Linked DNA regions of Homo sapiens: region 1 is linked to region 2. The links come from fine-mapping of genetic effects on gene expression. A gene starts in region 2. The other region holds a variant in brackets. All regions are shown on one strand. Distances are from middle to middle.

Region 1 (15,656 bases), 19 kb before region 2:
ATTCACACAACACACTCTTCTATACACACAGACACCTGCGCTCTCACATGCGTGCGCACACACCCTCACAAACACATTCACACACAGACACGCACAAGCACACACACAAGCACCGACACACTCACAAGCACAGGTACACTCACACACAGAGATACACTCACACAAGCACACACAAGTACACTCACACACAAGCACAGACACGCAAGCACACTCAGACACACGTGCAGACACACAAGCACACACACACCATCCTGAAACCATTTCAAAGTCACTGAACCACCCGGACTGCCACTCAAAGCTATGGCCTGATGGCTCTGAGCAACCGAGTCCGCTTGGGTTTCGTTCTTGATCTTTTCAAATGAAACCCCTGCACCCTGGGAGTCTGTCTGTGCGGCTCCTGGCCCCTGGCTGAGGTGCTGAGCAAACACCAACCAGGTGAGAGCCAGGTGAGCACAGCCTCGGGAGGAGGGACTCTGCGGATACTGGGGGCCAGGCTAGGAGGGGGCAGCCCCGTGAGCCCACAGCCCGCCTCGCGTGCTGCGCTCTGCATCCCCCAGGAGACGTGCCCCCACCAGTGTCTCATGGCACAGAAGCGGCGGCAGAGGCTGGGACACGGTGGCCCCCTTGCTGCAGGGCGCTGCCTGTTGGTGGCCACGCAGGGCTTGCAGGGTGTCCTCCACCCTCCCTCAAATCCCTGTGACTGCCCAGTGCTTCTCTCTGAAGGGCTGCTCTGTTCACCCTTCCTGTCTGCTGTGGAAGTCCAGCACAACACGTCAAGTGCACAACATCACGAAAGTCTGCCTGCGCGCCCACCTACCCATGACCTGGACCTAGATCCAGCTGTTCCCCTCGGCAGGCCGGCTGCCCTCCGGCCTCGGCAGTCAGTTCCCTTCCCCACTGCGGCCAGGACTCCACAGCTGCGCCACAGACAAGCTTTGACAGCCGTGAGCGGCACTATGGGTTAGCGTGAAGGCAGTAGGGGGTTCCTGCCCCACCCCAAGGAATTCCCCGCCGTAGGTGCCACTGTGTCTGGAACTTCACTATTACACACTCATTCCTTTAGGCGATTTCTCCTTTATTCCCAGGAGGTACAGCAGGTCAAGAACATCTACACTAAGGGGTTGACAACTGTCAGGTCCCGAGGGGCGCCGGGCCAGGCAAGGAGACGGTGGCTGGGGCGGGAAGAAGCAGAGAGCCCTGGAGGGAAGGTGGAGCCGTCGCTGCTCTCTCCAGCTCAGGGTGGCCTGCCACACTCCCACACCGCACACTCCCATAACCCACACTCCCACACCACACATACCCACACCCGACACTCCCACACCCGACACACCCACACCTCAAACTCCCACACCGGACACTCCCACACCCCACACTCCCACACCCCACACTCCCATAACCAACACTCCCACACCACACACACCCACACCCCACACTCCCACACACCACACTCCCACACCCCACACCCCACACTCCCCACCCCACACTCCCATAACCAACACTCCCACACCCCACACTCCCACACCCCACACTCCCACACCCCACACTCCCACACACCACACTCCCACACACCACACTCCCACACACCACACTCCCACACCTCAAACTCCCACACCCCACACTCCCACACCCCACACTACCAAACCACACACTCCCACACCCCACACCCCACACTCCCACGCCCCACTCTCACACTCCTACACTCCACACTCCTACACCCTACACTCCCACACCCCACACTCCCACACCTGACACTCCAACAACCCACACTCCCACACCCCACACTCCCAAACCCCACACTCCCACACCCCACACTCCACACTCCCACACCCCACACTCCCACGCCCCACTCTCACACTCCTACTCCCACACCCACACTCACACTCTCACACTCCCACACCCCACACTCCCACATTCTCACACCCCACACTCCAACACCCCACACTCCCACACCCCATACTCCACACTCCACACTCACACACTCCACACTCCCACACCCCACATTCTCACTCACCACACTCGCACATCCCACACTCTCAAACCCCACACTCTCACACCCCACACTCCCACACCCAATCTGACACCCCACATTCTCACACCCCACACTCACCCCACACTCTCACACCCCACACTCCCACACTCTCACACTCCCACACCCGACACTCTCACACCCCACACTCCCACACCCCACATTCCCACACCCCCCCACAAACACAACACTCACACCCCACATTCACACACCCCACACTCCCACACCCCACACACTCATACCCCACACTCCCACACCCCACATTCCACACTCTCACACCCCACATCCTGCACTCCCAAACCCCACACTCCCGCACCCCGTACCCCACACTCCACACACACTCCACACTCCCACACACCACACCCCACACCCCACACTCCCACACTCTCACACCCCACACTCCCACACCCCATACCCCACACTCCACACTCACACACTGCACACTCCCACACCCCACACTCTCACACACCACATTCACACACCCCACACTCACACCCCACACTCCCACACCTCACATTCTCACATCCCACACTCCCACACCCCACACTCTCACACCCCACACTCTCACATCCCACACCCCATACTCCCACACCCGACACACGCACACCTCAAACTCCCACACCCCACACTCTCACACCCCACACTCTCACATCCCACACCCCATACTCCCACACCCGACACACGCACACCTCAAACTCCCACACCCCACACTCTCACACCCCACACTCTCACACCCCACACTCTCACACCCCGCACTCCACACCCCGCACTCCACACCCCACACTCCACACCCCACACCCCACACTCCCACAGCCCACACTCCCACACCCCACACTCTCACACCCCACACTCCCACACCGCACACTCCCACACCCCACACTCCACACCCCGCACTCCACACCCCACACTCCACACCCCACACCCCACACTCCCACAGCCCACACTCCCACACCCCACACTCCCACACCCCACACTCCCACACCCCACACTCCCACACCCCACACTCCCACAGCCCACACTCTCACACCCCACACTCTCACAGTCCACACTCTCACACCCCACACTCCCACACCCCACACTCTCACACCCCACACTCCCACACCCCCACACTCTCACACCCCACACTCTCACACCCCACACTCTCACACTCCACACTCTCACACCGCCGCTGCTCCTCTCAGAAAGTGCCTGGCGGCATTGGCTCTGGGTCTGGGGCCGGTCTCTTCATAACCGCAGCCCCCAGAAGAAATGAAGACTCATCCCTGGAGCCAACACACCTTAAAGCCGTAAACACTGGACCGAGACCACTTGCATTTGAACCCCAGCTCTACCGCGGGTGAGCTGTGTGACCTTGACTGAGCGTCTTAACATCTCCCCACCCCGGTTTCCACATTTTTGAAAGGGTGACAACAATAATACCCACCTCATGGGGTGGTTTCAAAGATTAATTTAGTTAATATTTATCAATCACGCAGCAACATGCCTGGTTCGGGGTAAGCGCTCTATCTGCGTTTGTGAAACGAGTTAAAGGAAATGGCGCTATCATAGCACAGTCAGGCATTTGATTCTTTCCTTCTGATCTTTGATGTTCCATGTATACAACCAGGAATTTTTACATGCATAATTGCCTGGGAATTTCAACTGCATATGGTAGCACTTTCTGCTTTCAAACCATTTCTGAGGTGGTCTGTAGGCCCCCAGTTCTGCTAGATGCTTTCACAAGTAAACACTGAGAAGAATGCCTGATCCCTGCCCTCAGAGAGGTTGGTGGATTTGGGAAGACAAGAAGAATCCACATGGTTCAGGAGGAAAACCTGTGGAGAAGCCTGTAATGAGGAGCAAAACTGTGTGCAGCCGAGCGGAGGGGCGGGCATGGTTGAAGTGGGGCCAGGCAGCAGCCATGGTGGGGGTGACAAGAACCACAGCCGCTTCCTGCTGGGGCGTCCTGTGGGCTTCACGAATGCCACCACCTAGATGAGGACACGAAGGCTCAGAAAGGTCACACAAGACACACGGCTCACAGTGGGGAGGTGGGGCCTTCTGCCCATCACCTGCTCGGCAGCCCTGGTCCTTAAAGAACGCTCCGGTGAGGGGATCCGCATGGCCCGGCTGAGCTGGAGTGTGGACTCCTGGAGACGGTCCAACCGGACGGGGAATGTGTCAGGAGGAAGGAGCTGCTGGGAGGCCAGGAGCTGCTGGCAGTTCCCACCCTGCCCGGGTAGCACAGGCCCCCACAGGCTGTGGGCGGGAGATGCTGAGGGTTTTTTGAGCCAAGGGGCTCTGGAGGAAGGCAGAGGCCCAGAGCCACTGGCACCTCTGAGCAGGGGTGACTGGGGCGAGGACTGAGTCTGGGGTCCTGTAACCAGTCGAGTCGTACTGGGCGAGCCGAGGGGACCGTGCCTCAGCACACAGGTGGAGGGTTCGGGGGCAGCCTGTGGCTCTCCCAGGGACCGGCTGCGTCTCCCCTTCTAGCTCTGCCCTCTGCTGTGTGTCTCGCAAACACCACCCCGTGGACTGTGAAAAAAAGATTTCAGAAACTGGGAGAATTGCTGTCAGGCTTCCAAGCCAGCAGCACAGAAAAGGCAGAAAGACACCAGGACGGTTCTCTCGAACTCAGTTTAAATATGGAGGGATTTTGTCATTTTTTTAAACAAGAAAATCTTGTTTGATATTCTCTTTCTAATTGATTCTTCATATTTTCCTTTAAAAAATATTTCAAGCAGCTGTTTCCTGATAGGAGAGAAGCAGGGAACTGACACCCACAAATTCCTCCGGGCGGTGGTGCTGGGGCCGGGGCAGCGGGGCAGGTGACCCCAGGCGCAGGACGCTCACCTATGCTGCCTCAGCAAGTCGGGTGGGCTTGAATCCCCCTTCCAGGGCCGCAGCCTGCAGAGCCACCTCCTCACAAGACCACAAGCAGGCCTGGGCAGGCACCAGACGGGGAGACGGGAATGCTGGCCCTGAGCTCAGCCCTTGACCCGGTGGTGGGGCCACAGGTGCCATGTAACGATGATGGGTACCACTTGGGGATGAAGGCGGGGGCCTGTGCCAACTGACTTCTGACCCACAGGAGCCCTCTCCACAGCGTGAGTGGGGACGGGACCAGGTGGCAGCACCTCCCGGGATGGGCTCTGGTCCTGGCACCTCCCTGGGCGAGTGCTGGGCCTGCTTCCTCCCCTGCCCAGTGGAGAAGAGAGCAGCCGCCCTGGGGGAGCTGTTCTGGGGAGAGGGCAAAAAAGGGACAGGGAAGGCTTTGAAGGGGATGCTGGTGCAGTCCCTCAGGCGCCCCACCTCTCAGGAAGATGGGCCCCGCTGGGGGGCCCGTGGTGTGGAGGCCACGCTGCTGCCCGGGCTGAGGGACCCGAACCTGCAGGCCCCAGAAAATAAAAGGGTGGAGTCACCCACCTCCAGCCTGGGGCTGCACCAGCCCAATCCCCAGCCCCAGCAGGGGCTGCCCACCTCCAACTTCCCCACCCCATGGCCCTCCTCCTGCTGTCGTCTCCCCATCATAGTTCCTGCACCACACGTCTCTGGAACCGTATAAAGTTATGCGTCTGAGTGGCTGACAGCAGCCTCCAGGCTAAACTTTTGATCCGCTGTGTGCTGACATCTTCAAACCAGAGCGGGTCTCTCCCTCTCTGTTCCTGGGTTGGCGGTGGCAGGTCTCCTGCAGTATATGGCATGCAAATAAGCAGGTCTGCGCTGTCACTCCCTAGCTGCCAGACCCCTGCCTGGTGCCTGGAGGTGGCTGTCCCTCCAGCCACCTCCAGCAGCGAGGCCAGAGCCCTAGGCTGCTCCCCACCCCTTTGTTTCCTTCTGGGAGGTGCTGGTGACCGAGGCTCAGGAGGGCACCTGCCCCTAGGAAGGGGCTCCCCCAGGGATCCCCGCAGTAGAGAGGGGGCCACTGAGGGGTGGGTGGGCAGTGGCTGGGGGCTGCCTGCATGGACTGAGCTTCCTCCCAGGCTCAACCCCCACCCCCCATCAAATCCACCTGACTCGCAGAGGCTGTTAGAACTGGGGGGCTGTGAATCTGGCCACCTGGCCTGGTCCCATAGCTAAGGTTCAGTGGGAGTCTCAGCCCCAGCTCCTGGCATGGGGTAGCTCAGGAAAGGGGCTGGAGCTGACAGGTGTGATGAGGGTGAGGTGGGTGAGGTGGGTTTGGGGCCAAGGGGAGCCTGGGAAACCAGGTGAGAGGTATGGGAGGCTGCAGTGGGGCCAGGAATCCTGGGTCTCATCCTTGTTCCCATGCCAGCAGCACAGGCTGACACTTTGTCACAGATCTACTGGGTCCCCACCACTTAGCCCCTCTGTCCAGCCTCCGCAGCCCCTGGGAGTAAAGCCCTTTAATCTGAAGACTCAAAAACCCATCTCTTCCTGGAGCCAGAGGCCCAAGTGGCTGCCAGTGAGAGTCTGCTGCCAGCCCTCCCTGCTGGGCTCACCCACGGCTCCCGCCAGGCGCACAACAGCATCTGCGGACTCCTGCCCTGGCTCCTGGGTCACTTCTGTCTCTGGGAGAGGCTTTGGGCTTGAACCCTGGCAGCTTCATTGGACAGCGGTCCCAGCCTGCATGCCAGGTCCTGTCAGTGTCCTGGAGGGTCCTGTACTGGTCCTGGTCTCTAACCCTGTGCGAGGCCATTTGGGCTTACTTTTCTCTCTCCGAGATCTGCTCCTGGTTGCAGCGTGGTGACCAGTGAAATCTTGCATTTCTCTGCTGTGCCCCCAATCCCTCCAAAGAACATGGCCTCCTGGGATGCTCTCTGCCCTCCAGGCCCTCTGCCCGGCTCCCTCCTCACCCACCATGCCAGGCGCACGACACCCCAACACCGCAAAGACTTTCAGTCAAAGTATCCTCCCCTCCCTGCTCCTAACACCCTTGCTCTCCCTTGGAGGTCCAGAACAAAGAGGTCATTTCTTCTGGAAGGACCTCTTGTTCCCATGGCTACAAAATCCTCACTATTTACTCCCTTCTCTGTGGGCACGACCAGAGACAGCACTGCTCTTGTATTTCTTATGATGAAGATCAATGGGATGTCCTAGTGGTCTTCTGGGCATCCACATGATTGCATCATGGGTTG[C/T]AAGCCCCCAACAGAGAAAGTCTGTGCACCTGGACCCGCTCTTCCTTCTATTATGCACATAACCTGCCATGTTACAGGTTAGGGGAAGCACATAAGAAGGTGTGTGCTGTGGGCTGAATCCCCTGAATTCATATGCTGGATCCTGATCCCTGGGACCTCAGAATGTGACTGTATGTGAAGCTGGGGTCTTCACAGAGGTCATGAAGGTTAAATGAGGTCACATGGGAGGCCCTAGTGTAATATAGCTGGTATGCTTATATGAAGGGGGGATTAGGACACAGACACACACAGAGGGATGCCCTGTGAGGAGACTGCTGACTGCAAGCCAAGGCAGGGGCGGGGGGAGGGGAGGTCGAGAGAAACCAGTCCCTGCTGACACCTTGGCCTTGGACTTCCAGCCTCCAGAGTTGTGAGGAAGGAAAGCTCTTGTTTAAGCCACCCATGGTATTAATATTTGCTAGGGCAGCCCCCAAAAACTCAGACAGTGCATGTGTGGTGAACCAGAGATGGCTCTCAATTCTTCACCGCCTGTTACAGATTGGTGCCTGTCTGACCTGTGCCATGGGGTTCTGCAGGGTCCCCGCTGTGGTGGACGGAGTACACATTCCTGCCCTGGGACTTGGCCTTGGCCAGGTGACTGCTGCCAATGGAACATGAACAGAAGTGACAATACCCCATCTAAGCAGAGACACTAAGTATGATCCACGGCCTGGTTTGCTCTCTGGCATCTCTGCCATCCACTCAGGAGAGTGTTCCCAGACCCCACTGATCCCAGAATCAGAAACATGTGGAACAGACTTGACCAACAGCCTGACGCAGGGCTGCTCATTGCCCAGAGACCCCAAAGCAAGAAAAACACACGTTTGCTGCAGGAAGCCATTTCCATGTTGGGGCCATTTGTTATGCAGCCTTGTCACAGCAGTGGCTGACTGATACCTTAGCAACCTCATTTCCTGTCCCACACCTGCCTCATTCCTTCTGCTTTCTACACAGGTGGCCACCGTTATTAGTTTAAAAAGGCGTTTGCTTGGTGAGGAAGAAGAGGGAGAATCAAGCAAAGGCATTTGGACTTTATTCCACAGGCAACGTAGATCAGTGGAAGGTTGATGAAAGGGAAGTTCCATGATGAAATCACCGGGGAATTATTCTATCAGTGCTCCCCAGGCTGCTGGAGAAATGAGGGAGGAAAAACAGACACAGAAAAACCTGGTCATGGTTTTTATTATTTCTCTTAAATTCAGCTCCACCCCATCTCTTCAAAGAATTTTCCTCTTTGGTTTTAATAATGTGCTTAAGCCACAAGTTGAACAGTCTTCCATCCTCCAAGCTGTCTTCTGGCTGAGGGAGGCTGCTCTGGGCTTGGTGGGCGGTGGAGGAACGGGTAGCGGTTGGGGACTGTGTCGCAGCTGGCCCAGCCACTCTCCCTTTCTTGGGGTGTACTAATCTGACTCCCAGAATGGTGCCGACTCTTTCCAAGGCTTCACATTCCTCCTCCTCTAGCTCGGGGGAAAGTGAGTCCTGATTTAGACTTCTGTAGTCAGGCAAAGAATTTCTGAATGCAGGGGGCTACTCCAGGCTGGATGAAAAACCCACTTTCATGCCAGCTGGGTTTCTGACAGAAATGCCACAAGCTGGCACCTGGCAGTGTTACTGGGCTGGCAAAGTCAGAAAACTTTGAATTTGTGCAGCTCACACGGTGCAGCCTTCAGCATTTTACAGACGTGCCCATGTGACTTGCATCTTTGAAAGGGGATGGTGTGGGAAGTCATGTTAGATCACCTCTGATATGATTAGGACCTAATGGTGTTATTTGAAGTTCCAGCTCAAGTCCAGTCAGGTCACAGTCACTGCCACAGATCAGGAAATCGTGCTGACCTGGATTCCTCGGTTCCCCCTTGTCTGTTTAATTGACGGCCACTTTCTCATCAAGGCCATCAGCAGCCAGCACACAGGCTTTTTAAAAATTAGGCCTCAAGAAACAACAATAACAAAGTAAAATCTGTCCTGATTTTTAGGCTTAACCTTTGAAAATGTTCTCTCTCTAAAGAGAAGAGGTGCCTTCAGTCCAGTGAAGAGCGCTGGGCTGCTACCCGAAGCATCTGCACGGGAAGGAAACGAGATGAGTCGGTGACTCGTTGCCACAGGGGCACGCATGGTACACGCAGCACAGCACCAGGAGCTGGAGCAGGCTGCACAGGGCGAAAGTCAACAGGCACACGGTGGGCTTGAGGGGCTTCTGCAGAGGGAGTGGGGGACAGGAGTGACGCCTGGGTGCCAGTCCTGAAGGCACCTCTTCTCTTACATGCTTGGACTGTGTGACCGTGACAAATCCCTCTCCCACTGTGAGGTTCATCCAGAAAATGGGGTGACCTCACAGCCTCCCCGGAGTTCTGTGAGCGTCAAGGGGACACCATGTGGAAACCCCTAGCACCGTGGCTGTTTGTGGGTGCAGAATCGTGTGCACGAAGCGAACAGAGGCTTCCACGTGGCCTTCATCTCTGCTTCTTTCGCAAAGCAAACCTTGGCCCCGAGATGACAGCTGCTTTGTGTTTTACACCCTGGGGCTGAGTCTGCCAACTGTCCCATGGTGTCCAGACTCCCCTAACTCCTTTCAGCAATGGAACCTGGCCAACGAGTGTCAGCGGGGCTGCAGCTGGGGTGGCAGGGGGGTGTGCAGAGACGCCCTCTCCTCTTGACTCGTCCTCATGGAGGAGGCTGCTTGCCATCCGCTCTCATTTCCCACTCCCTCCACCTGCAGCACGGATGTGGGGCTGTTGCCCCTCAGTCACCCAGGTGAGGGTGATGCCCCAGGATGGCAGGGCAATGGGACGGGGGAGCCCGGCCCCGGGCACCGTGGGAATGCTGTGGACTCTAGGCTGCTGGTGGGAGGGAGTTTTCTAGGGCTGCCTCCAGGGTGCTGGCCACATCCCAGCATCGCACAGGGTTGGTCCTTTTCCCCTCATCCTCATAACACCCAAATGAGGCAAGCACTATTACCTCTGTAAGCGAGGAGACGGAGGCGCACAGAGGTTCACCAGCTATCTAGAAGCACCAGAGCTGGGGCTGGAGCCAGGCTGACTGCCCCGGAGTGTGAGCTTGTGGCCGTGATCAAGCCTGGCTGGCATCTATCACAGTCAGGCACTGTGTGCGGCTCTAGGCACACAAAGGCCAGGTCTGCAGGGGGATGCCAGTCAGAGGGGAAGGGAGACAGGTTGCCCTGAGGACAGCAACGTGGTCAGTGCGTCAGTGCTAGGGCAGGCGGGCGGTGATCTCAGCGGGAGGGACAGGCATCTCCGAGGCAGGGGACGGGTCTGCCAGTGGTCCCAGGTGCTGTGCTTCCTCCCGCACTCCTGCCTTGAGGTTTGTGGCCCCACCTGTCACCTGTCCTTCCTCAGCCTTTTCTGGTCGCCAGAACGCCTCCTTGCGTAGTAGTAGTTACAACTACTGAACCCTAATAGTTACTACTACTGAACACTAATAGTTACAGGAAAATTGTCAGGTGTTAAGTAGAAGTGTAAAATTGAGACTGTTTCCCTGGCATAAAAAGAATTGAACACCAGAGTTGTGGAGAGAAAGACATCTTGGTCATGGAGAAAAAGTTCTGTTTATCTCTTCTCGGAAAACTGCGGAACTCTCGGATGCCACCTTAGAGAAGCCACACAGCTCAAGAGATGTGCTGGGTCTCCACGCAGCAGGGGAAGCAGGAGCAGAGGCAGGGCTGGAGAACAGGAGGAGGAACGTGGCAAGGGTGTGGCTGGCAGCTGGCGAGGCTGCAGTCCATGACGTGGGGGGATTCGGTGGCAGGGGTAGCCTGCAGGGGGCGGCAGTGAGCGGAGCGCACCCTGGGTGGTGAGTGGAGGCCTCAGCTCCAGCCTGGCTCCGGCTTGCCACGTGAACATGGAGGGCTGGCCCCTCGCCTCCCACCCTTTTCCCTCCTGGTGTCTTTGGACGGTTCAGGGCTTCCTAACTTCTCGAAGACTCAGTGTCTTCTTCTGTGGGGGCAGCCTTCACAAAGTGCCACAGACCCGGGGGCTGAAAACAGTGGAAATGTATCCTCCCACAGCTCTGCAGGCTGGACGGCAGAGACCCAGGGGTCAGCAGGCCTGGCTGCTTCTGGAGATTTCGAGGGAGGGTCTGTCCCAGGCCCTCTCTTAGCTGCTGGTGCCACTGGTAACTCTTGGCGTCACGTGGCTTATGGATAAATTGCTCCCGTCTCCGCCTCCGTCTCCACTTGGTCTCCCCCAGGTGTCTCTGTGTCTCCTCTGGTCTTAGAAGTGAGAGGTGACAGAGTGCTGGCAGTCCTCACAGCCCTCGCTCGCTCTCGGCGCCTCCTCTGCCTGGGCTCCCACTTTGGCGGCACTTGAGGAGCCCTTCAGCTCGCCGCTGCACTGTGGGAGCCCCTTCCTGGGCTGGCCAAGGCCGGAGCCGGCCCCCTCAGCTTGCCGGGAGGTGTGGAGGGAGAGGCGCGGGCGGGAACCAGGGCTGCGCGTGGTGCTTGCGGGCCAGCGTGACTTCCGGGTGGGCGTGGGCTCGGCGGACTCCGCACTTGGAGTGGCTGGCCAGCCCCACCGGCCCCAGGCAGTGAGGGGCTTAGCACCTGGGCCAGCAGCTGCTGTGCTCAATTTCTCGCCGAGCCTTAGCGGCCTTCCCGCAGGGCAGGGCTTGGGACCTGCAGCCTGCCATGCCTGAACCTCTCCCCGCACCCCCCGTCCCCTGCCTCCCCGCCCCCCCCGCCCCCCGCCCCCCGCCTCCGTGGGCTCCTGTGCAGCCCGAGCCTCCCCAACGAACACTGCCCCCTGCTCCATGGCGCCCAGTCCCATCGACCACCCAAGGGCTGAGGAGTGCAGGCGCACAGCGCGGGACTGGTAGGCAGCTCCACCTGCAGCCCCAGTGCGAGATCCACTGGGTGAAGCCAGCTGGGCTCCTGAGTCTGGTGGAAACTCGGAGAACCTTTGTGTCTATCTCAGGGATTGTAAACGCACCAATCAGCGCCCTGTCAAAACAGACCACTCGGCTCTACCAATCAGCAGTATGTGGGTGGGGCCAGATAAGAGAATAAAGGCAGGCTGCCCGAGCCAGCAGTTGCCACCCGCTCCAGTCCCCTTCCAGGCTGTGGAAACTTTGTTCTTTCTCTCTTTGCAATAAATCTTGCTGCTGCTCACTCTTTGGGTCCACACTGCCTTTATGAGCTGTAACACTCACCACGAAGGTCTGCAGCTTCACTCCTGAAGCCAGCGAGACCACGAGCCCACCGGGAGGAACGAACAACTCCAGACGCTCTGCCTTAAGAGCTGTAACACTCACGCGAAGGTCTGCAGCTTCACTCCTGAGCCAGCGAGACCACAAACCCACCAGAAGGAACAAACTCCGGACACGCCGCCTTTAAGAACTGTAACACTCACCGCGAGGGTCCGCGGCTTCATTCTTGAAGTCAGTGAGACCAATAACCCACCAATTCGGACACAGAAAGACACAGTCATGTTGGAGTAGCCCCTGCCCACTCCAGCCTGACCTCAGCCTAACTCATTCCATCAGCAAGGACGCTGCTTCTGAATAAGGCCACGCCCTGAGGTTCTGGGGTGAGGACTTCCACATAGCATTTAGGGACACACAATTCAGCTTGTAACACTCGGTTTCCTCAACTTGGAGGGAAACACTGTTACCCACCCAATAGGGTTTTTGAAAGGATTAAATCATTAATGCATAGAAAGTTCTTTGCACTAGAGCTTGGCCCATCTTAAGAGCCACATCAACATGACCTATTATTACTGATATCTTGGGAAGAGTTTTGTAACATTCTGTGCCATGTTAAAGGTGAGGTTTGGGCTTGGGAGCTGGATGGTCTGAGGCCATGGAGACCCAGGTTTTCTGCTTACATCTGGACTAAGGCCTTGTGAGACCTCAAGTGTTTAAAAAGCAAACCCTCTAAGTCTGTGTTCGCTTCCCTTTGCCACGGGGGCACAATTGCTGCTCAAGAACCCATTCCCTGATAACACAGCAGGAGACCAAGCAGGCTGTGCGGGGCCACGGTCACTAACCGGCTCTGGGGCACCCCACGAGCTGCCCCCACCAAGGCCAACTTCCAGCCTCAGAAGAGAAGAGTCTGAACCAGGCGCTGCAGAGATGTGCACGGCCGGCTCGTGTGAGCCAGGAGCCAGCTCCAGCAGAATGTGACTCTGAGAAGAGCCTCTCACCACCTGCCCTATCCACGGGGAGTGTTTCCGCTGTATCCCTGTGTCCTATTTCATAATCGGTGGCCGTCACCGCTGTATTGCTACTCACGTTGCAGCCTTCAGTCAGCTCCCCCTGTGGGTGCCAATGTGTTTAAGTACAGATTGAGGTTGTCTGGTTTAAATAGGCCGCCAGGGTGATTCCAATTCATCGCCCTTCGCTTCACTCTTCCCTCCTCAGGTGAGATCCAGTCATGCATTTATTGAGCTACTTTTTGTGTGTGTGTGAGACAGGGTCTTGCTCTGCTGCGCTCTGCTGCTCAGGTTGGAGTCCAGCGGCGCCATCATGGTTCACTGCAGCCTCAACCTCCTGGGCTCAAGCGATCCTCTTGTCTCAGCCTCCCGAGTAGCTGGGACTGCAGGTGTGTGCCACCACACCCAGCTAATTTTTTTTTTTTTTTGTGGTAGACATGAGGTTTCAATATGTTGTCCAGTCTGATCTTGAACTCTTGCACTCAAGCGATCTGCCCACCTTGGCCTCCCAAGGTACTGGGATTACAGGTGTGAGCCACGGCACCCTCTCTGTTGAGCTACTATTATGTCTCAAGCACTGTGGAGGGTATGCGGAAACAGAGAGTAACAACCAAACCAAAACAAGGTTCATGCCTGCAGGAGTGTCTTCACCAGCTAGAAAACCCAGGTTCCCACTGGATGACAACCCCAACCCGTATCTGGGAGACAATCATGAAGTGTTGAGATGCTAGTTATGAGCAATTAAGGAAGGAAGAGCTCAGAAAGGGCAGGGAACAGAGTGATTAAATGGCCTGGGGTGCTGGGGTAGGATCCAGGGAGCTGGGGCAGAGTGGAAAGGAATAAAGATTCCTGAACAGCTGTTCTCCATCTCTTCACTACTAGAATCCCTTTTTAAAAATTTCTCCCAAGTGTGTTTTCATTTTGAAATGAAATTGTTCCACTAACAAAGAGGACATGAATTAAGAAGAAATTAGTTCTCCCCAGTTCTCACATTCAACAACGAGTTAAGCATCTGGGCAACCCAGAATAACCAATGTCACCACACTAAGTGGATGTCATTTTAGTCAGACGCAAGGACACCTGCTGTTTGTCGGCCCCGCAGTGTGAGTGCTGGGACCTCGGGGGTCTGGGAAACTGTGGGAGGAGCCAGGAGGGCACCAGGCAGTGCCAGTCAGCAGCCGGCCCCAACAGAGGCAAAACGTAGGGCCCTGAGCACCAAGGGGACAGAGGAAGGCAGTCCCAAAGGAAGCGGATGGGGGCACAGTTCCCTGCATTGGCTGTTCTGTGGGGTCCTGGGAAGTAGCTGTGGAACAGTCAAAACAGCGCTCAGTTTGGAGCAGAGGCCCTAGTTCTGGTTTCAGCCCTTGCTAGCTACAAGATCACAGGCAAATTACTGCATTTGTCCAAGCCTCGGCTGGCACATCTGTGAAGCAGGCAGAATGCCAATCGAGCCGCCAATCCTACAGAGCAGGGCGAAGTCTTTTGAAAACAATTAAACCTATAATCGTGTGTTGCTTGGTGAAGGGCATCATTCGGCCTCCTGAGCTGCAGCAGCCCGAGGCAGTCACTGTCCCTACCCTCCTTCCTTAGCGCTGCCTTGGTGATGCCTCTCAGATCTGCCTGCCGCCTCCCTGTGCCTCCTCTGGCTCTGCACCATCCTCCTCTGGACTGTCTGAGTTGCTTCTGACGATTTGCCGGCCACCTCCATCCATCCAGATATTCTTGGCAATATTGTTCTCCTGAAACAAAAAGATGGCAGTGTCATTCTCTGATCACAACCCGCCCCCCAACCCCCAGCCCCGGTTCCCCTTCCCTACAGGATAGAAGCCTCACATGCTGCCCTGAGCCTCATCTCGCATGCACCTGCACACCTCGGACCCCCAGAAGCTCCAGGAACATGGCTGGTCTTGCCATGGCCCTGTGCTTTGAAGTTTGCCAAAATGTCCTTTCCTGCCTTACTGGTACCCCCAGGCCCAAACTCCCTGTTGACCACCCCCTGAGAGGCAGCTCCTCCATGGAGCTGTCCCATTCCTCAGCACCACACTCGGGTCACACCTGGAGCCAGCATTGGCCAGACAACCTCGTGCCTCCTTGCCTTCACGGCTATGGGACCTGTAAGCTTCTCTATGGCAAAACCATGAGTGCCATGTCTCCCTGCTTCCACCACCATGGAGCAGGTGCTCCACAAACTGCTCTGTGAGTGGGAGCCCAGCACTGAAGCTCCGTACAAAAGTGATGCCATGGGGTCATGGTGGCGGCATGGTGGCACCGAGTGTGTTAGTGTGTCGCCATTTTGTTAAGGCTTCAGACCCAGGATCTCATTTAATACAACATCACTTCATGTTTAACCAT
Region 2 (15,656 bases):
TCATATTTTAATGAAATTGGGAGATAAATGCATTATGCTTTTCTTCTTTTTTTTTTTTTTTTGTTGTTGTTGTTTTGGGACAGGATCTTGTTCTGTTACCCAAGCTGGAGTGCAGTGGTGTGATCAGGGCTCGCTGCACCCTTGACCTGCCAGGCTCAGGTGATCCCCCCACCTCAGCCTCCCTTGTAGTTGTGACTACAGGCACACGCCACCACACCACACCACAAATTTTTGTATTTTTTGGAGAGACGGGGTTTTGCTATGTTGTCTGTGCTGGTCTCAAACTTCTAGACTCAAGAGATCCACCTGCCTCAGCCTCCCAAAGTGCCTTTTTCTGGTATTTACCAAGAAATACTATACTGTGAATTTTTTTACTTAATGATTTTTTCCCACTCAAACATACGCAATTTATGAAGACACACTGTTCTCAAGAAATAATGTTGGCCAGGCACAGTGGTTCACACCTATAATCCCAGCACTTTGGGAGGCTGAGGTGGGTGGATCATGTGAGGTCAGGAGTTGGAGACCAGACTGACCAACATGGCAAAACCCCATCTCTATTAAAAATACAAAAATTAGCCGGGCATGCTGGTGCGCTCCTGTAATCCCAGCTACTAGGGAGGCTGAGACGGAAGAATCGCTTGAACCTGGGAGGCGGAGGTTGCAATGAGCCCAGATCACACCACTGCACTCCAGCCCGGGCAACAAGAGCGAGACTCCATCTAAAAAATAAAAAAGAAAGAAAAAACGAAGAAATAATGTTGAATTTGTTTGGATGTGAATGTCTTTGGTCACCAACATTGATGAGAACCCTCCTTGCCCTTGGCACATAATGCAGTGAGTTGAGCTGTGGTTTGAGTGAGAAGCATGTTGGTGCCTCTGTCCACGCATCTCTGAATCTCTGGCTGTGGCTCCCATGAAGCCGGGAAGTGCTGATGGCCATGGGCACTCAACAAGCGGATTCCTAAGCTTTAGGCCAAGGTGCTTCTGCTCAGATTTCCCGTCCTATTTCATGGTATAAACATGACCGGAGGACTTCACAGAGATAAATGAGAGAGTTTGGCTCTCCCTTGCTTAGTTCAAAGAGCACATAATTTCAGCAGCTGATGTAAGCAGTGACAGCTTCATCTGTGCCAGCCCGTCACTGCCACCTCCCACTTAATATATGACCATTCATACAGCCCAGTCCTCTAAAGAAGGCAGAAATTGAGCATTTCACCTGAATCTTTCCAGAGTTGGTGGTGCATACTGTGTGGTTCCAGGGGACAGATGGGCCCTGACTCCGAATCCCTTTCAGGGGCATCTTTCCTGATCTTCTCCCACTAGGCAGCTGCTCTCCAAGCATCCTCCCAGCTTGGACGCTTGTACCTGGTCCATGTTCCTGGGAAGCAAGCCCCGCCCCCCCAACCCCAGCGCGTCCACCTGGGGCTGCCTTGCTGGGATGTGGCACCCATGCCTGTCGTGCTCTGGGAGCCCCTCTACGTATGGAGGATCTGGCTTGTGTCTAGGAGGAGAAGAGGCTCCATGGCCAGTGCCTCTTAGCCAGGGCAGCACCAACCTGGCCTGAAGGTTGACTTCAGCATAGAAGTTGAGGATTGGCCAGCTTTGGCATCAGGAAACCTGGATTTAAATTCTGGCTCCATGCCCTGCCACCTGGTGACCCCCCGACAAATGATCTGTCCTCTCCACTGTAAAATGGGGAACTACGCTTCTTCACAGCACACAAGAGACACACTTTCCAAGGTTTGGGTCAGGGCTGCCTGCCCCTCCCTACCCGCTCCCATCTGACCCCAGAGGACGTGGCATGGCCTCAGGTTCCAGGGGCTCGCCTCACCGCCACCCATGACCTTGAGCAGCTCATTTCCTTCCTGAGGCTTTGTTCTTCCCCTTCTCTGGGAAGGGAGGAAGCTACAGCAACCCTGGCCCACCTGCCCCACCTGCCCCGCTGCTGGGCAGCAATGAACACAGCACAGTCTGCACACAGGAAGAGCTCAGGAACCCGGTTACTAGAGGACCCCCGAAGGCTCACTGAGGCCGGCTGCAGACTGCCTTTGGCTTCCGGGAGCCACTGAGGGCAGCAGCCAATCGTCTGGTGGGGGGCAACGCTGCAGCTCCTGGGGCTGACAGAGATCACAGGAGGGATGCTGTCACTGAGCTGGGACGACCACAGGGGCCCGGGGAGTGCACACACCTTCTACAGTCTTCACTGTGAAAGCCACCAGTCCTGCAAGGGAAAGCCCAGCAGGCCCAGACTAGAAGGATGGGGCACAGGTGCAGAGGAGGCCTTCTCTGGTCAACCCCTGCCCTCCTCCGAGCCCTCGGAAAGGCTCAGCCTCTGCGGAGCTTCCCTCCCTTCCAGGAACTCCTACCACCTGGCACACTCTCCGTGACACTGAGCCCTTGTCCTCCCCTTGGTGCTTCTTGTCAGTGGCTTTGTCTTCCTAACTGGACTGAAAAATTTGCAGGTATGACTCATTAGTACAAACCTGTGGATTGATGAAATCAGTAAGAGTGGGAGAGTAAGCAGCTATCAGGTAACTCATTGGACCACTGAGGACTTCAGTTTCTTCTTCTGGAAACTGATGGGATTGGAGGAGTGTCTGCTTTTTGTTCCTAGGGCCATAGAGTGGGCATACCCTGGAGATGCCTATGCTTTCTTTTTTTTATCTTAATTCTCCCCTTGACTAAGGTTGGCCTATTCTTTTTTTTTTTTAATCTTAATCTATTTTATAGTTTAGATAAACTCCACCTAATGCTTTTTCATCCAGTGGCCACACGGCCCCAGGAACCTGAGACCAAAAGGCTTTTCTATGACCAAAATTGCAGTCCCAATAAGAATGCATTGTTTTTAGACACAAGGGGACTGAAGGAAAGACAGAACATGAATGACAATCAAAGGGACCACCCTTAGCCACAACAGCACCCCCAGAATTCCCACCTGATGAAGGCACCTGTTCGCCCCATCTTCAGATATAAAATGTCAAACATTTTGAGCTAATGAGCTATTATAAAAGGGCCCTTAAAATAAGCTACTTGAAAACACCTTTTGACAGGCTGAAGCCCACGTGGTCTAATTCCCGATCCAGTTCTTTCCCACACTGATGAAAGGCAGTGTGTTCTTGTCTAAACAACTAAAACCTTTTGCCCCAGGTTGTTTACTTTGTAGCAAGCCTGCCCCCAAGGACCACTCACTTTGAGGACAACAGATGGCTATTGTATACAGCTTCAAACTTTTCAAAGTACTTTCCATTTTCCCCAATTGGTTCATCTCAACAACCCCATACGGGAGGTTTTAGTAGCCCTATTCTGCAGATGAGAGGACAAGGCCTGCCTGAGAGATGCCGTGATGAGACCTGGCTCTGCCCAAGCCCCCACTGCCTAGATCTTGGCAGCCAGGACTCCAGCTGCACACACCCTCTCCCTGGGCTGGGCTCCTCCTGGCACAGCCACCCAAGTGCTACCCTCAGCCCCTCTGCGGGAGGCACGGAATCTGCGTGGATCTACCCCCAGCGTGCAGACTGCCCCCGCCCCACATGACCTGCAGTGTTTATTCCCCTGGGTGGTGATGGGCGGAGGTGGCCACCGAGCAGTCAAGCTAAGTGGATTCCCCAGGAGCAAGGCCTTGGCTTTGGCCCACGATTGCCCCTCACCCCCACAGCACAGCCCAAGCTCCGGCAGACACTGGCCTGGTGCGTCCCAGGCCCTCCACACATCTGTTTCCTCATCTGCAAAATGGGGGTGATCTCAGGCCACCCTCACAGATGTGTCCTGAGGACCGAAGGAGTTCGTTGCACGTAGGAAGTGTGCACACACACCCGGCCCCTGTGCCTGCCGCCTCAGCGTTTGAATTATGGCATCCGTCATTTCTGCAGGCATGCATTCATGCAGCATCTGTGTCTGCACAGCTGCGGGCCTGCATCCCTATGATTAGATCCACGCTCAAGTTCATGTGAACTGCAAGCACAAAGGTTCTAGCAGGGAGGGAAGATCACTCATCCAAGTCCGCCCAAGACTGGGGAAAGCCCAGCAAACTCTTTGGGAGGCGAAGGGGTCCTATCTGAGATCGTGGCCTTGGGAAATTACCCACAGCCTGAGGCATCACTCTGCGGTTTGGGATTGAGGGATTGAGATGGCTTTCCGAAGTCATCTCCCAGGGCTGCAGAGGGAGGGGCTCGCAGCCAGTTGTTCTAGCTGCTTTCCGTCTGCAGCACCACCCCTCTGATGGCAGCATCTGGATCCCCGCACATGACAGCTGGAATCCTAAATGTTCTGGGTTAGTGGTAACTTGTCTGGATTTTAACCTACATCTCTTCCTTCCTCATTGCAACAAGACTTCTCTTCTTGTCCCTGTCTATGGAGTTGAGGGTGGGAAGGATGCTTTGATTCAATGCTACCCTATGTCATGTCTTTTTGGAATACAACTTCCAGGCAAAGGGGAGAGCTTCCTCATCCCCATGGACAGAGAGGTGACCAGGGTTGCATTCACACCCGTTTGTTAAGCACCTGCTGCCTGCAGGCCTGTGAAACACCCTGTTGTCCTGGAGATACAGAGACAAGAGGCCTAGCCTCTAGGATTTGACATTGGGGACAGGCCCAGAAACACAACATGGCAGCACACTGTGGCTAGGGTGGAGGCAGACCTCGGTGCTGGCTGCTGCAGGGACACGGAGGAGGGACGCCCTTCTCAGCCTGGAGCTGGGAGGAGGCTGGGGAGCAGTGCCAGGAAAGGTGTCCCTGGGGATGAGAGCTTCTGTTTCTATTCCAGATTCCCAGAGTCACAGCGCAGAGGGGAGCCTTTGTGCTCATGGCTTTTTGACACTTTCAAAAAACAAACAAGAAAAAAACGGCATGGTCTCTGGAAGAAGTGGAGGAGTGACTCATGGGTGTCTCCCTTCTGCCTGTCTCTAGGCACCTGGGGCCACCAGAGTGCTTCTGCCCTGGGCTTTGAGGGAAGCTGATCACCTGGGTCTTCCTGGCAGGAACTAGCAAGTAGGGGCAGTTTTCAGGGGGTGGAGACCCCAAAGATAACATTGGTCTCAACCTTGATGCTGTTTAGAACCACCCAAAGAGCCAAAGCTCCCAGGTGGTGAGAGACAGGACTAGCTGGATTTCCCAGGCTGACTAAGAATCCCTAAGCCTAGCTGGGAAGGTGACCGCATCCACCGCTAAACACGGGGCTTGCAACTTAGCTCACAACCGACCAATCAGGTAGTAAAGAGAGCTCACCAAAATGCTAATTAGGCAAAAGCAGGAGGTAAAGAAATAGCCAATCATCTATTGCCTGAGAGCACAGCGGGAGGGACAGTGATCCGGATATAAACCCAGGCATTCGAGCCGGCAATGGCTACCCTCTTTGGGTCCCCTCCGTTTGTATGGGAGCTCTGTTTTCACTCTATTAAATCTTGCAACTGCCCACTCTTCTGGTCCGTGTTTGTTATGGCTGGAGCTGAGCTTTCACTCGCCGTCCACCACTGCTGTTTGCCGCCGTCGCAGACCCGCCGCCGACTTCCATCCCTCCGGATCCAGCAGGGTGTCCACTGCGCTTCTGATCCAGCGAGGCGCCCATTGCCGCTCCCGATCGGGCTAAAGGCTCACCATTGTTCCTGCACGGCTAAGTGCCCGGGTTCATCCTAATCGAGCTGAACACTAGTCGCTGGGTTCCGCGGTTCTCTTCTGTGACCCACGGCTTCTAATAGAGCTATGACACTCACCACATGGCCCAAGGGTTCATTCCTTGGAATCCGTGAAGCCAAGAACCCCAGGTCAGAGAGCAAGAGGCTTGCTGCCATCTTGGAAGCCACCCGCCACCATCTTGGGAGCTCTGGGAGCAAGGACCCCCGCCCCCAACAGTGACACTCAGCCTTGCTCTTAGAACTCACGTACCCTGTATCTTGTTTGATCTTCAGCCCATTGGGTACTTAGGATACCGAATGGCCTTCCCATCTCACAGAGGAGAAAGCCGATTCCTGGAGGCCAAGTGAATTCCCAAACACCGTAGACAGAGCAGGAGCCAGGCGTGGGGTCTGAGGTTTGCAGGTCCAGCACCTGCCCCTTCTCCACTCCGAGTCAGGGGACACAACCTGAAGTCCTGGCTGTGTGCTGCCTGGCATGTAGACCCAGTGGAGATGCTGCCAAAATGAGCAATTGAGGGTTCCCCGGAGCCCCTCTCTTCTGAGCCCCAAATCTCCTCCAGCTATTGTCCCCATGCGCCCGTCGTTGGTGCTGCTGTGCTGCAGCCCTGGCTGGACCTGGATTCTGGTTCAGGGCGGGTGCAGGGACAGGGTGCTCCAGGGTGTGAGGGCCCAGGAGGGCGTCAGGGGTACACCAAGCAGTGGGGAGAGCAGCAATAGAGCATCCCCACTTTTCTCCAAGTGCTCTCCTTCAGGAGCCGGGATGGGAAGGGCAGACGCGCACCATGTGAGAGCCACATGGCGAAGGCAGAGGTGGCTTTGGGATGCTGCACCTCTGAGCCCAGGGAGCAAGCGTTCCTGGAGACAGCAGAGGCCAACAGGGCGGGAAGGGCCCTGCCCACGCCTGGACTTTGGACTCCGGTCCTGTGGGGGAACACATTCCTGTTGTGTAGGCCCCCCGGTTTGTGGCACTTCGCTAAGGCAATGCCGGGAAGCTGATGCAGAGGGGTAAAGTGACAATCAGGCAGTGATTCCCCAACAGGTGAGCAGGACTGGGGAGGCTGGGGAGGCTGGGGAGATGACCCAGTCCACCTCCAGCACCCACCGCTGCTGAGAAGCCAGGCAGGAGGCAGTGGAGGGGAGGCGTTGAGAAGCGTGGAGACAAGCAAGTCTGGACCCTGCTCCGCAGACCAGACACCCCCCAGAGACACCCCCCAGAGAAGGCGGGCGTGGGAAAAGAGGCTAGGCTGGAACTACACCTGGGTGCCCCTCCTGGGAAGCAGGGGGTTTGTGAACACCTCCAAGGGGCCTCTCTGAAGCTGTGCTGTGGCTCTCGGCCTCCCCAGCCCCTGCTGGTGTGAAGAACACAGAAAGGGGTTGGAATAATCTAGCAGCTGCTTGCTGTCCCAGGCTGGCCAGCCCCCACAAAGTGTTCCCATCTGGCCCCAGCCTGCACAGGCAGCACTAGCAGCCCCCCGTGAGTAATTTGCAGGCTCGGATGGATGGGCAGAGCCCAACCAACTTCAGCCAGTGGAGGGAAGGCCTTGGCCTTTGCAGGTAGGGGAGACAGCTCAAGGCCAAAGATTCCCATCAAATCCTGAAACGCCTCTGCCCAGCCTGGCCACCCGAGACCGCACCCAGCCAGGAGCACTCCCCAGAGAGCCCACACACGCTTCCAGGTCTTCCTCCCCAGCCTGCCAACTCAGTCTCAGCATCACTGGTTTCATTTCACTTAAAAAAAATTTTGTTTCAATTTAGCTTCATTTGGTCATTTTAAAGAATAAGTTGTCTGTGCCCCCAGGTAGGGTTATTTTCTATGTTGCCCATCCTCTGCATAAGGCGTCACTGTCCCTGGGAATATACAGGGATTCTATGCCTGGCCTCGGAAACTGAAATGAAATAAATTTGCACCATGAGAGAGTAGGTCCAACTCTGCACAAATTAAAACAAAACACAACAAAAAATGTTTCAGCCAGAAGTAACATTCGACATGGTCTACCCCCATCAGCTCCTTTTACAGGTGAGGAAGTGGAGGCCTAAAAAGCTGGGAAGACTTGCTCAAGGTTATGCTCAAGGTTACATCCACCTCTTCCTGCAGGGTAGAGGCTGGAGGGTCTCAGAAAGGCTCCCTCCCTCCCTTCCTGCTTCACAGCTGGGGACTGGAGGCCCAGATCCAGACCCAGAAGCTGGAAAGAAATCCCAGGTTGTGAGGCCCGTCCTCCCACTCAGCCCCCAACTCTAGGCCTGGGACCCTCCACAGCCCTCCAGGCACCAGGGGACCAATCGGGATGGAACCAGCCCCTCAAGACCCAGGGCCACTACCTAGCAAGTCCCTCCTTATCTGGGTAGCCTATACCCCCCACCTTGCCTTCCCCAGACCCTGTGCTAGGGACCCCTGCCTCAGGAAGTGAGCCCTACTGAACAGATGGGGGGCGGCATTTGTGGCTCGCGGCCTCTTTCTCTGTCCCTCCCTCCCGGCCTGCCCCCTGCCCTTCGAAGAAATTGAATTCCAAGGAGGAAGAGGGGAGAAAGAACACCCAAACCCCTGCCTTCTCACTGCATAAATACCTAAATCCCGGGTCCTCCAGAGCCTGCCTGGAGCCTGCCAGCCGCTGCCTGCGGTCCTGCCCACAGCCTGAGGTCCCGGCCTGCACCTCCTCATAAGCCCACACTGGCGGTGCCATGCCATGGGCTCCCCTGGGCTCCCTCTGCCGCCCAGCCTGCCCCGCACACTCCACTCGCGCCGCCCGCCCTTTGCTGCAGGACGGGGCCAGCCAGGGCAACTCTCCGCAGCCCAGAGCTCTCGTCCCTTGAATCCTGCCGGTGGAGCAGGGGGCAAGGGGGAGCCAGGCACGCCCAGCCCCGGACCCGCAAGCAGGGACCCTCGGGGCGGCGGTCCGCACAGGGCAGGGGCTGCTGGAGACCCGCGGCCCCCACCCCCGACACTCACCGCGCGGTGCCCAGCGCGCGCCAGGGCTCCCATCAAGTCCTCTCGGAGCCCGCAGCAGGCTCCCACTTCTGTTTTTCTCTGACAGCCATGCAGGCAGCAGGCCTTCAGCCAGGCTCCCCGCCGCGCTTCCACGCACGCACACTCACAGTCACGCTCGTGCACACTCGCACGCACACGCACGCTCACGCTCATGCACACTCACACTCACATTCGTGTACATGTACACATTCACACCCGCATGCACACTCAAACTCACGCTCACGCACACTCACGCTCGTGCACGCGCACGCATACACACGCCCGCGCTCACACGGACACGAGAACTCGCCCCGCTGCGCGCCTGGCTCCCGGGACGCCTGGAGCTGGGGAGCGAGGGCCCCGGACGCCTGTAGCCGCCAGGGGAGGCCGGAGGGGCAGACGGGTGCAGAGAGCAGCCGGAAAGGCAGTGCCCGGCCACCAAGAGGCCGATTACTTGAGGGGCCTGAGGTGTGGAGCCCAGGCCGAAGACCCTGGGTGCGAGAAGGCAGCGGCCAGGAGGCCGCCCTAGAGCCTCGGGAGCGGGCGGGGGAAGGGGGATGTCCACGGAGACCAGAGTTGGTGGCTCTGACCGAGGAGGGCCTCGCGCTCCCCACGCCACTTGGCAGGGCTGGGGACACGCGCCCTCTCCCCCCTCTCCCTGGGGCCGCGCAGGGCTGTACCCGGGCTCTGCCCAGATCCCCTCGGAGCGGAAGATGCAAGTTGGCTTTTGTCTGACCCGGTCAGACAGAGCCGTTCTGTGGGATAAAGGCTTAACGCTCCGTGAACACGCAGAAAAAGCTCCGCGCTGGCCCTCTGACAATCCCATTGTCTCGGGCCTGAGCCCGGCGGTTTGGTCTGAAAGCGCCAAGTTCATGACATTTCAAAGAGCAATGATACTGGGAGAGGGGGGTGGGCAGGGGAGGGAGGGGTGTGCAGGAGAAATACATTCCTAAAATACGAAGTAACAGTATCTGACTCCCTCGCCAGCGCGTTCCTCAGCTCAGCCCCCTGCCCCACCCTCCACGAACCCATTCAGACCGAATCCCCTTCTCCAGCCCCGTGTGGACCCAGAGCCAGGCTGCAAAAGTCAGGATCACCAGGGACTGCGGTTTGGAAGGTGAAGGTGTGAAAAGATGCCCAAGTAGCTGCGTGGAAGCTTCCTGGAATGTCAGCAGAGTGACAGCAGCCGTTTAGCACAAGCTCCCATTGTCTGCACTGCCCCACAAGATAAGAATTTGCCAAAAAGGACTTTAGGTGCCCACATGAGTTTATTTTAAAGAGCTAGAGTGTTACTGTTTTCTTTCATTTGTATTACTGTTCGTACTATATCCTTTAAAAAAAAAACTATTTTCTGAGCCAGGAAGCAAAGGAGCTTCCATTTTTAGTGTTTAATTTGTTTAATGTGCCTCGGCAAAAGCAAATAATTCCTGAGAGAAAGCAGAATCCTCAGGAAATTGAATGTGTTTTGTCTCCAGCGAAGTTTCCCTTGAGTGATTTCGTTTGCTTTCTGTCTCGCCAAGCAGGCTCTGCACTGGGACCTCCAGCAGGCTGGGGCCAGGCTGGGCAGTCTGCAGCCCCTCTCCCCACCTTAGGTGGTGAGGCTTCTCTGATCCTCAGCCCACTGGCCAGGTAAACTGTGCTCCCGAAGAACAAAACGTAGCCTTGTAGAGTCATTCTAATGCGAGGAGAAAATAGGATTAGGCCAGAGTGTCAGCCAGGTAAGTCGGATTAACAGCAAGGTCCAATACATTTTGGCATTCTTGTGCTATTTTTAATTGTACAAAGGTATATGCTTCCCTTCCCTGGCTTTATTTAAAGAGGCTGTTTGTTTGTGCCCAAGAGGTAAATGATGAGCGATAAGGCTCTATGAGGAATTGGAAATGTATAACCTTGCAAAATGACATTTCGCCCTGGAAAGTGTGACACGCACACACGGGTAGATAAAGGGAGAGTGCGGAGCGTCCCGGGCTTTGTTAACGCTTCTTGCCCCCTGGCGTTGCTTTGATGGAAGGACACCCCACGCCTGGCTGCAGAGGTGTCTGCCAACGGCAGGAGCTCCTTCCCCACAGGCAGCCAGGCAATGACTACAAATCGATTCATTTTAAAAAAATATCCAAAGTCAGGTGTTAAAAAACGTATGAACCAGGATGGTAGGTCATTAAACCGTGGGAGAAAAGAGTTGGCAAAAACCTGCTTATATTATTTTTTAAAATATATATCTGTATTGCATTTTGCCACATGCAAATTTAGTCTAGGTTTGTTAATCAGGATCATGTGAGTGTGTCATAAATTAACATGATTTCTTCGGGGCAAGTCAAGAGAGAATGTATAATTGTTTAAGTTTGCAAATCATTTAGCAATTAACTTGGGGGGCAGAGGGCTGCAGTTCCCGGGTGGCCAAGGACATTCATGAGCCATGTGGAAGTTACTGAGTCGAATTGTAACTGTCCATGGCATTTCTGACCGTCCTTTCCAGGCCAAATGACAGACAGAAAGCCAGAGGGGACAGCACTGAATCCAAATGCTTTTGCATTCTGGGTGAGTGTGAACTGAGGGCACAGAAGCTTGGGGCCAAAGGAGAAGAAAGTTGCATTTGATCAAAGTTCCCCCTTTTGGGCAGAGGGCTGAGAGTGAGGATGACCAAGGGGTTTTGGCTTCCCTTTCAGACTCTGCATATGTGAGGTGGCAGGGCAGGGTTTAGGAATGTCATTTTCCTTAGATAGAGAAGGGTGTTCCCAAAAGAATTGTCCAGGGGTCAGGATTCTGGGAAAGCCATAACAGATGTATGTCTGTGAGGGCTTCCATCAGCTCGTGGAATGTTTTCTTCCTGTTGCAGAAACAGAAAGAGCAGTTTGTTGAATCTGAGAGTCGGTTTTGCCGACCTTGTTTAACTGCTGTCTGTCTGAGAGCTTCTTGCAGAGACGCTGGAGAATTCCTGGGGCGGGGGTTATTTCAAACTCAAGAATCTATCATTCCATTTTGATTAATCTGGTAAAGCAGGGTTCTGTTTCTCTTTTAAATTTTTTCTTCTTTTCCATATTTAACATAGATATGCATGTACATGAGAAGTAATGGACATTCAAAAAGCCAGATCCTGCTGATTCCACATTTCAATGGCTTGGTTTGCCAACTCATGCATGGGTGCCTCTAAACACTAATCAGTAATCCAGTTCATTGCTAAGGCTGCAGAGCTCCAGGATCTCTTATTTTCTCACAGGTGGGAAAAGACCCCCCGACCTTCTTGGTCTAAGCTCTCTTCTGGTTACTTGGTACCCACATGTTTACAAGGTATTTATTTTCATTAGACCTCCGATCGTTCTAAAGGCCTGCAGAGCCCAACCCTTCCTGCCTCCTCCTCTCCCCATCTTTAAGCTATAAAACCTTGGCGGAGTTTTCTGGGCTGTTCTCCAGGTTTTTGTTTTCCCCACTGTCCAGCATGGTACCTGAGATTGAGTGCAGGTGCAGCCGGCAGGACACAGTGGCTCCAGCGCCAGCTTCCGCTCCATCTCTACCCCATCCTTCTCCTCTGACTTATTTTGCTGTAACTCTGCACTTAATCTGATGAGGAAGGGTCCCTAGAATGTAGAATGTTGAACAAAATTCTCCCTAAAACAGGAGGAAGAGCTGGCCGTGGGGAGCGGGTTCTATAGTAGCTGCAAGTTGACCAAGTATGTAGAAAACATCAAAATGTGTCTCCATTCCCTTTCCTTGGGTCTGGGAGGAATGTCCCTGAGCCGTTCTTCCCAGCCCTTTTGTAACTAGCAGATGCATTTGTTAGAGAGGTCCTCTTGTTATCCCTGTTCTCAGCATTGTTCTTTCAGCTAGAAATTCACAGTAAAGGTGAGCCATCCTCCGAGGCCGAGGGGCATAGCTGAAACTCAGCAACAGGAACAGAAGTGAACCTCTCTTCACCATGTGTATTCGTGGGGTGGGGGTGGTGAAGGGGAAAGGAGATAGTGTTTGATTTTGTGAATCCAGGGTGAGGCTACAGGGACCCCAGAAGCCTCCTCTTCAGGCCCTTCAGTCAGCAAAGGCGGCCTCCCATCCCCAAGGCGCAAGCAGCGCAGATACCATCACAGCCGTAGCCCAAGCGCGCGGGCCCTCGGCCACTGTGTGCCTTCCCCGGACGTTGGTCTATGCGGAGCAGCCCTCAAGCCTGACTGATCCGGGTCTGCATCCCGCGGGTCTGGACGCGAGCTGGGCATCCGACCGCACCGCGGCGGGACGGGGAGCGCGGCCGCCTGGAGCTGCTTCTTCTGGGCGCTGGGCGCACGCTGCCGAGCGCGGGGCTGGGGCTTCCGGGGGCCAAGCCGGCTCAAGCCCGCACAGGCTCGCGGCGGGGCTGCCTGGCTGCCGCGTCTTGGATCCGGCCTGGGCCTGAGCTCCTGGACCTGGGGTTTTGTTTTGTTTCGTTTTTGTGGAGGAGAGGGGGTTTGGAGACATGAATTGCACTGGCATGGTGTAGGGGAAATATTTGGAGATAGTTGGCAAGAATTCATCCCCAGGTCCAAGGAGTCCAACTAAGCCCGGTTTTAGGGAAGCCCAGCCAGATGTATCTTGAGACAGAAAAGGACATCGTGCTAGGTCTGTGGGGCGGACGCTGAAGAGTTGCCCCGCTAGGAATTTCCTTCCTTTGCAACCGTGAAGGGCTCGCTGCTGCAGTCCAGTGAGCCGTGGGACTCCAATGCCTGCTTCCCACCGCCAGCCTGTTCAGGGGAAATCAGATCAAATCCACCTGCAATCACAACTCCTTTATCAGCTGGGGGGCCCCAAATCTAAAGGGAGAAATGGGACGCTTTAGGAGCCCACCTAATTTGTGATGAGAAATGGAGAAGGGGAAATTCATATCCAATAATAAACTGCTGTAAAAGTAGGTTTGGAAGAAGAAAAGTGAAAACAGTACATATGTTTGTAAGTATGTGCTCATATTTATTGAATATTTGTCTTCTCTAAGTATAGCTTTATTAGGTGTCATAAAACCCCTGAGTTGAGCAGAGTCCAAAAGCCGTCTTTTGGCCAAGCTCACACACATCAGCTCTCTTCCTGGGTGTCCCCCGTGCATTTTATTTATCTTTCAGTTTATTCAAACTTATTTTGAGCCACATGAAGGCAGTTTTATTTGGCTAGTAGAGATTGTGTTTAATTCATTGAGTATGCATTGTCAAAGTTTAGACGTCAATGCCAGCCTGAATTCCAAATTGGGAAGTTAAATATTTGTTTTTAATTTTCTGGCTCAAAAATGTTAACTAACAGAAATGATTCTTTCTGCTCTAATGTGCTTGCATAAATGGGGTTATTAGAACTTTCCCCTAAAACAACATTTGCTTCCTGTCCAGACACGTTGTGTTTGGAAACTTCACTCCTGGAAGAAATTTTTAATATGTATAAATAAAAAGTAAATGCCTGGCCTTTGAATGTTTTGGTACAGAGGCTTATAGGAGGAGGAAAATGAGAATGCAGCATTCCTATCTCAGTAGCTTGATTACAGACAAATTTAGGTTGTGGTGGAAAAGTATTAAAGGGCTTGCATTACAGAAAATATTGACACCAAAGTCCCCTTAATGGTTGTCCTTTATAAGATATGGAATTTTGTAAAGAATTTCAAGGTTTAATTTGCCAACTCTTTTAGGTTTGTTGTATTATTGTGCACTTAATCTATTTATACATACTTCTTAAATTCCGTGATTTGAAAATGACAGAGAACACAAATGCAAATAACTTCACACATAACCCTCATACTATTGGGAATGGAACCAGGAAAGACTACACCTTCTCTGTAGAGGTGTATTTCCAGTAAATCAAATTGCAGACAGTTTAAAACATGATGCTCAAACTGAGACCTCATATGCGAGTGAAAATGAACTGACTATAGAGATGTGACTCACTATAAAGAGCCAGAATTCCAACAATCTTCAAATCTGATTTTTTTAAAAGTGAGCTTTCCGGAAACAGATCTATCTAAAGCTTGGCGAGACGAGAACCCCATAACAACCATCTAGATAACTGTGCCTTCACTAGCATGTCACTTATTTCCTCCTTACTTGATTCTCTGACTTGTTCTTGAAGGAAGCAAGGATGCCTCCTGCCTACATTTGGGTCTTGGATTGACTCACTACATCACAGGACTGCTGGGCTCCAGGATGCGAAGATCCAGCCACAACTGGCACCAGAGAACAAGAGAAGCTTCCTTTCCATCTCTGGTGGCCTGCTCACCAAAGACCCTCTGGTCCCGTCAACTTGGTGTTAACTCTTGGGTGTAAATGCCTTTGAGAAAATACCCACTGCACCTCCTACAGTGAATCCCACTGCTCACACAGGGTTTGTATGAAGTCTGCCCTTTATGGGCCATCTACACATCTCCTGTATAAGATACAGAAGGTGAGTCTACAGTCGTACATAGGAAGAGCGACCTAGGATTTAGTGGGCCAAATACAACCACGAAACGTCGCCTGGCAGCCTGATTCCACAAACGCTGTAACCTTCCTCCTCCCTCCTGTGGGGACTAGGAAAGAAAAGAGAAAGAGAGGCACAGCCTCTGGTCTCGGAGGTAGGCAGGAATGGAGGGGTTTCTAAGGGCAGGTCATCTCCTTTCAACAAACTCAGAGATTTGGCAAGTCACCAGGTAATTCTTTCAACCACAAAATCCGCAGGCAACACAATTTAAAATCTCTTGGCAGAGACTTCCGGAAGTGCTTCCTCCCTTCTTTCTCTGGAGCTCCAGCTGCAGGACCACCGTGAGGAAGCTGTCACCGCCGCTAAGGCTGGCTGCCCTCTCTGGGAGTTGCACTTCCTTCCTCCGGTCCCTAATCTGAGGACTGCTGGATTGCAGACTTGGCAAGTCCAGTGTGTACCTACTGTTACCCCACTGGAGTCCTGATGTGGCGGGAGGCCTGGTGGAAGGGACAGGGGGTATTTTCCCTTTTAATTTATTCAATGTTTTGTCTTAAAAACAGAGGGAGGGTAGGCAGCGATCTTACCTGTTATTAACTTTCCACCCCCGCTGCCATCCCCTTAGCTAGAAGAGCCACTGGTTTTTATTTTTGTTTTTATCTTAATGA

Which allele goes with the higher level. Positions count from the first base shown, and alleles are read on the strand shown. Sizes are in standard deviations (SD) of each study's normalised expression.
As copies of T replace C in region 1, the expression in nucleus accumbens of the gene that starts at base 8,820 in region 2 goes up (moderate effect, 0.71 SD a copy in GTEx).

The links. PIP is the estimated chance that this variant, and not a neighbour inherited with it, causes the effect.
Region 1: its variant is the best candidate, but not a certain one, in a credible set for the expression of LINC03010 in nucleus accumbens (GTEx, PIP 0.66).

Annotation. Positions count from the first base shown.
Region 1 is chr7:155,394,433-155,410,088 of GRCh38, reverse strand. LINC03010 (long intergenic non-protein coding RNA 3010) reads right to left here. Exons shown (of 3, transcript NR_147174.1): 2 at 14,882-15,043; 3 at 8,307-9,200. Among named protein-coding and RNA genes, the nearest start is that of LINC03010, 20 kb to the right of the region's middle. RefSeq lists an enhancer at 853-1,575. The variant C/T (reference allele first, on the strand shown) is at 7,102.
Region 2 is chr7:155,375,240-155,390,895 of GRCh38, reverse strand. It overlaps LINC03010 (long intergenic non-protein coding RNA 3010), which reads right to left and starts at 8,820. Exons shown (of 3, transcript NR_147174.1): 1 at 8,581-8,820. RefSeq lists enhancers at 7,951-8,762, 8,763-9,574, 12,310-12,810.